Homo sapiens: one gene and its partner. The protein of the gene in region 2 interacts with the protein of the main gene of each other region in a pairwise test. Each region holds a gene or a part of one and is shown on either strand. Other genes may lie near its edges.

Region 1 (3,500 bases), on a different chromosome or scaffold from region 2:
GATCTCGGCTCACCGCAACCTCTGCCTCCTGGGTTCAAGCAATTCTCCTGCCTCAGCCTCCTGAGTAGCTCAGATTACAGGCATGCGCCACCATGCCTGGCTAATTTTGTATTTTTAGTAGAGACAGGGTTTCACCATGTTGGACAGGCTGGTCTTGAATTCCCGACCTCGGGTGATCCACCTGCCTCGGCCTCCCAAAGTGCTGGGATTACAGGCGTGAGCCACTGCGCCTGCCGTCTTTTCACTCTTGATAGTATCCTTTGATGCAAAAAAGTTTTAAATTTTGATGAAATCCAGTTTTTCAAGTTTTTTTCTTTTGTTACCATATCGAGTTTTTTCTTTTGGTGTCATATTCAAGAAATCATTGCCAAATCCAGTGTCATGAAGTATTTCCCCTTCCTTTTTCTCTAAGATTTTTATAGTTTTAGCTCTCACATTTAGGTCTTTGCTCCATTTTGAGTTAGTTTTTGTATATAGTGAAAACTATGTGATGTTTTTGCTTTTTTTTGCATGAGAATATTCATTTTTCTAGCACCATTTATTGAAGAGACTGTGCTTTCCCATTAAGTGGCCAGGCCGGTCTCAAACTCCTGACCTCAGATGATCCACCCGCCTTGACCTCCCAAAGCGTTGGGATTACAGGCATGGGCCACCGCCTGTCCTCAACAGTGGTTTTTGCAGAAATAGAGAAACACAGCCAGGCGTGGTGGCTAGTTCAACCTAGTTTGAATAATATCAACTTAGTTTCAATAATATACAAACGCTCTGCTCCTATATGTCTCTCCCTCCCACTTCATTATGTCTCTCCTGCTTCATTATCACAGATTACAGTTTTATACCTTGGGTGCCCATTACATCAATTCATAATTATTGTTTTATGCATTTGCCTTTTAAATCATACAGGATGAAAAATGAGGAATTATAAACCAAAAGTACAGTAATACAGGCTTTTATATTTATCTATGTAGTTACTTTTCCTACATAGTAGTAAAACATACATGTTTTTTGTTTTTTTCTTGTGGTTTTGAGTTACTTTCTGGTGTCCTTTCATTTTAGCCTGAAGGATCCCCTTTAGCCTTTGTTTGTTTCTTTTTTATTTTAAAGTCAGGGTCTCACTTTTTCAGCCAGGCTGGAGTGAGCACAGTGGTGCAATGATAGCTGCACTGCAGCCTCAACCTGCTGGGCTCAAGCGATCTTCCCACCTCAGCCCCTGAGTAGCTGGGACTACAGGTGTGTGCCACAGCACCTGGCTAATTTTTTTTTTTTTTTTCTAATTTTTTTGTAGAGACAGGGGTCTCGCTTTGTTGCCCAGGCTGGTCTCGAACTCCTGGCCTCAAGTGATCCTCTTGCCTCTGCCTCCCAATGTGTTGGGATTATAGGCATGAGCTGCTGTGCCCAGCCTATTGCCACTTTCAAGATTCATTCTTTGTGTTTGGGTTTTGACACTTTGGTTTTAATGTTTCTTGGTATGAATTTCTTTCAGTTTATCTTGCTAGGAGGTTTTTGAGCTTCCTGGATGTACATATGAATGTCTTTCATCAGATTTGGGATGTCTGCAGCCATTATTTCTTTTTCTTTCTTTTTTTTTTTTTGCATGTTATTTTTATTTTATTTTATTTTTTGAGATGGAGCTTTACTCTTGTTTCCCAGGCTGGAGTGCAGTGGCCCGATCTCGGCTCATTGCAGCCTCCGCCTCCCAGGTTCAAGTGATTCTCCTGCCTCAGTCTCCCAAGTAGCTGGGATTACAGGCACTTGCCACCCACACCTGGCTAATTTTTGTATTTTTTAGTAAAGATAGGGTTTCACCCTGTTGACCAGGCTGGTCTCGAACTCCTGACCTCAGGTGATCCACCCACCTTGGCCTCCCAAAGTGCTGGGATTACAGGTATGAGCCATTGTGCCTGGCCGCATTATTTCTTCAAATTTTTTTTCTATCCATTTCTTTCTTCTTTTTCTGGGACTCCTATGATGTGTATTTGGTATACTTGATGATGTCCCACAGGTCCCTCAAGGTTTTGTTCATTTTTTTTCCATTATTTTTTCTCTTTGCATTTTAGACTATGTAATTTTAATTACCTTATCCTCAAGTTCACTGATACTTTGCCTGCTCAAACCTGCTGTTGAACCCCTCTAGTGAATTTTAAAATTTATTGTACTTTTTAGCTCCAGAATTTCTGTTTGGTTCCCTTGTATAATTTCTGTCTCCAATGTGTTCACACATTGTTTTTCTGATTTCATTACTTCTTTGTCCATGGTTTCCTTTAGCTCATTGGACATATTTAGGACAATTGATTTGTGTCTTTACTAATAATTACAATGTCTGGGTTTCCTTAGGGGTGGTTTCTGTCAAATTATTTTTTGGTCAGGTGTGGTGGCTCATGCCTATAATCCAGTACTTTGGGAGGCCGAGGCGGGCAGATCACTTGAGTCCAGGAGTTCGAGACCAGCCTGGCCAACATGGTGAAACCCCAACTCTACTAAAAATACAAAAAAAGCTGGGTGTGGTGGCGTGCACCTGTAGTCCCAGAATCTCACTCTGTAGCCCAGGCTGGAGGGCAGTGGTGCAATCCAAAAAAAAAAAAAAAAAAAAAAAAAAAGCAAAAGTGTATTTGTCTGTTTTACATTTTATCCAACATTTCCTTTTTTTTTGAGACGGAGTCTTGCTCTGTTGCCAGGCTGGAGTGCAGTGGCGCGATCTTGGCTCACTGCAACCTCCACCTCCCAGGTTCAAGCGATTCTCCTGCCTCAGCCTCCTGAATAGCTGAGACTCCAGGTGTGTGCCACTGTACCTGGCTAATTTTTGTATTTTTAGTAGGGACAGGGTTTCACCATGTTGGCCAGGATGGTCTTGATCTCCTGACCTCGTGATCTGCCCACCTTGGCCTCCCAAAGTGCTGGGATTACAGGCATGAGCCACCGCACCCGGCCCATAAATCCACCATTTCTAAATGTTTATAGTAGAAGTAGTATTACATTATTGCAAAATAGTAAGTGAACTCATGGAAAATGGAGTTTATTTCCACTGAAGACTTCTATGCCAGGATAGTGGGGAGGAAGAGTTCACTCAGAGGTGCCAGTGATGGTCATCATGGTAGTTGTCACCACAGCTCAGTCTGTTCCTACAGTAGAGGAAATGACTTGGAATCTTTCCTATTAGGAATAGAGATGAAAGGGAAGCAGATAGACATGTTAGAACTAATCCCTTACCCATTCTGGGCTTAGAGAGCAAGATTTTTCAAAGGGGACAAAGAGTTAAACTGCTCATAGTAAACTGGGGAAAAGTCGTGTGTATCTGAAAGAAGCTAATCTATGGCCTTAGGTTTGAGACTCATCAGCTAGGAACCCTCCTAAAATCTTGTATCTATAGGAGCTAGGGTTTGTTGTCTGTTTTGTGTTTTTTTTGTTTTGTTTTGTTTTTTTTTGAGACGGAATCTCGCTCTGTCACTCAGGCTAGAGTGCAGTGGCGTGATCTCAGCTCACCGCAACCTCCGCCTCCCGGG
Region 2 (3,500 bases):
CATGATGAGAATCATTCATCTCCTAGTGCAGAGGTAGAGCGAAGAGGATCTCTTCACGTGTGGTTATGCTTTGGAGTACTCTGGGGGGATCCTCAGTCATTCCATAAGATGACAGGCATTTTCACATTGAGTTATTTTCAGCTTTTCTGGGTTCTGCCTACTGTATACTATCTGGAAATCTGTAGCATCTTCTCGATTGTGTCTGTGTGGCCAGAGAAGAACATGAAGTAGCATATTTCTCCAGGGGTCAAGGCTTGTCTTTGCAGCCAGTCTGATAATTTGGAGGTTGGAGTGGGGAAGAAGCATTCCAGGCTTTGTTCTCCAGGCTAGCGGCATAAATTCACTGGACAGCTGCTATTCTCTTTTTTTGGTAATAAGGTCCCTGCTTCAACTATGAGAGTTGATAACTTATCTTTATGAAATAACTTAAAACAAATCCTTCTCAGAACAGTGACTTAGGAATCAAAACTCAGATTAGTAGGATCGGGCTATAATAGGCTCATTCTTCATGGTAAAATAGGACCAGTGAGCTATACCACTCTCTGGGTGAAAGGCCAGCATGTTGCCTGTCCCTTTTTGCCTAACTTGGTAGAAGTGGGGCAAGAAATCTTCCTATTTCTTCTGTGGCCTTCTCCTGTTGGGGAGGAATCTTGTGTAAGAAGCCCAAGGACAAACTGACCACAAGCTCCCTGGAGGTAGTTGACCTCACACTTGCTACAGCAGCTCAGTGACAGTATTAGGGACCCAGGCTTGTTCCATCCTTCCACTCTGCCATTCTTGGTGTGTTGAGTTTTTCTCCTAATGCCCCAGGTGTCAAGATGACTGTCAAGCTCACAAAGAGGCAGGAGGCAGTGGGGTTGCCAGGGTAGAGAGAGTCCTTCTCAACTTGCTGTGCTTGGTTTTGAATCGGGAAACAAAAATCCCAGAAATTCCCTAGCCAACTTCTCATCTTTTTTTTTTTTTTTTTTTTCCGGCTCAAAGGAAACTAGGAAAAAATGAGCATTTAGTAAAGAGTGTTGGAATAGCCATGACTAGGTTAGATCAGTCTCTATTCATCCCCCAGGATCAGGGCACTTTGCGATCCTGAACAAAATTGGGCTTTTTACTCTATCAAGGAAGAAGTGGGAGAATGGATAGAGGGTAGGCATGAATTGTACTGCCACTAATTAACTCTAAGGGTATTCCATGTCTGTGTCCACTTTTGGGAAAGTGAAAATTACTGTTTAGGTTAGATTTCTCTAAGATAAACTTTTGTACACAGTTTTTCAATATGATAATTAAATGCAAAGCTTATTTTTTCTTAGAATCTAGTTTCATACATTGTTTAGGAGACAGGCATTTCTTATACATAGATGTTTTAATGTTTTCTTTTTTCTTTTTTTGCCCCAGCTTAATTTTCTAAGGTACTGTATTTTAAATAAATTTGAACATAACATAGTAATGTGTCTGTTGGAGATGTCTTATTATTTAATGATAAGGTTGTATATGATTCCATGTAGTTGTATGCAAATCTGTTCAAGTCTTTGTGTAATTTTTCAGAACATGAATGAAGCCTCTTCTCTGCTTAGTGCCACGTGTAACACATTCATCACAACGCTTGAGGAATGTGTGAAGATAGCCAATGCCAAGTTTAAACCTGAGATGTTTCAACTGCACCATCCGGATCCCTTAGTTTCTCCTGTGTCACCTTCTCCTGTTCAAATGGTTTGAACTTCTTGTTTTGGTTTTTTCCCTCAGTAGTAATGTTGCATGTGGTTTTCGTTTCATTTTGGTATTTATTTTTAAGGGTGGAAGCAGGCAGTTGGGGGGCGGGGAACAGCTAACAAGTTGAATTTTTTTGTTTGTACTGTTTCATATTCGAGCTTCTTAGCTGATGAGCTGAGCACTTGTGCTAGTGTCCTCATTCCCTTCTCCTTGGAGGGGCTGTGCATGGCCTGCCCACAGGCTGCTTCATCCATTTTCCCCAGTGTCTAGGAAAATATTACAAAGTGCTGTGACAAAGAAAAAGTTGGGGAGCTCTATTCTGCTTGGTAAGAATTACACAATGGAATGAGATTTTAGTCACAATGGGGTACAATTACGTATATCTTTAAAGGAGTTAGAAGGAATTTGAAACATATTCCGGTGGGAACGGTATTCTCTACTAAGCATTTGGATCTGAACCCTCAGAGTAGCTGATCTTCAGTTTCTTCATGTGTAAAAATACAGTGTATATCAGAGAGTCACTGCAAACGATCTGACCTGCTTACTGTTAGGTGCTCAGTGTTAGTTTCTTACTTCCTTATTGCTCAGAACAAGTCCTCTTTTTGCCAGGGGTGGCAGATTCGTTGTCCTTTCTGAGCTAATAAATTTGCTCTAGCATGCTGTTAGAAATTTGTAGGTGAGATAAGCTTTAATGAGACTTCAAGTTTATTGCATCAAAGTGTTTTTAGGAGTCCATTTATAGGAGTAAGAATGCCACCTTGTTGCTGTTTCAGCAATTACCTGAAGATCTATTTGTTAGGAGAATAGGGTCTAACTTCTTCCTAGGTTCTCTTACCTATCCCAGCAAATTTAGTTATGAGATTTAGTAAAGATTATTGCCTAGATTTATTTAGAGAATTGTTTTCTAATCAGTATTTGATGGGCTAATAGTTTCCTCTGAGGCAAGCGTACCATGAAAATGAGTTTTATGGCCAGATTAATTTGGGAATTGCTAGGTTAACTTAAATGATATGAATTGGGTTTGATGGGACTTGTCACAGCCTTTTTACTTATTTATTTATTTATTTTTTTAGAGACAGGGTCTCACTCTGTTACCCAGGCTGGAGTGCAGTGACACCATCATAACTCACTGCAGCCTCAAACTCCCAAGTTCCAGCCTCCTGAGTAGCTGGGACTACAGGTGCACACCACGGTGCCTGGCTATGTTTTTTAATTTATTATTTGTAGAGATGGGGGGGGTCTCATTTTGTTGCCCAAGCTGGTCTCAAACTCCTGGCTTCAAGCTAAGTTTTTAAATTTATTTTTTGTAGAGATGGAGTCTCATTTTGTTGCCCAGGCTGGTCTCAAACTCCTAGCTTCAAGCAGTCCTCCTGCTTCAGCCTCCCAAAGTGTTGGGATTACAGGCATAAGCCACCATGCCCAGCCGTCACACCCTCTTTTATGCTGAAGTGTATTATGAATCTCTGAGAGGTGGAAGTGTAGTGTACAGTGTTGCTGAAATTTATTTGACAATTGAGCCCGTTATATATATACACAAATAAAATAAATATATATATAAATACTATATATGTATATATTTTCTTTTTTTGAAATGGAGTCTTGCTCTGTCGCCCAGGCTGGAGTGCAGTGGCGCAATCTCAGCTCACTGCAAGCTCCGCCTCCTGGGTTCATGCCATTCTCCTGCCTCAGCCTCCTGAGCAGATGGGACCACAGGCGCCTGCCACCATGCCCAGCTAATTTTTTGTATTTTTAGTAGAGACGGGGTTTCACCATGTTAGCCAGGATGGTCTCGATCT

Evidence for each region.
Region 1: the proteins of PLEKHA3 (region 2) and MRPL45 interact in a two-hybrid assay, tested with the Homo sapiens proteins (one large-scale study listed by BioGRID).

Annotation. Positions count from the first base shown.
Region 1 is NC_000017.11:38,314,168-38,317,667, forward strand, and holds part of MRPL45 (large ribosomal subunit protein mL45), read left to right. Parts: intron 1-3,500.
Region 2 is NC_000002.12:178,493,957-178,497,456, forward strand, and holds part of PLEKHA3 (pleckstrin homology domain-containing family A member 3), read left to right. Parts: coding exon 1-33; intron 34-1,539; coding exon 1,540-1,704; intron 1,705-3,500. UniProt on the Homo sapiens protein: Plays a role in regulation of vesicular cargo transport from the trans-Golgi network (TGN) to the plasma membrane.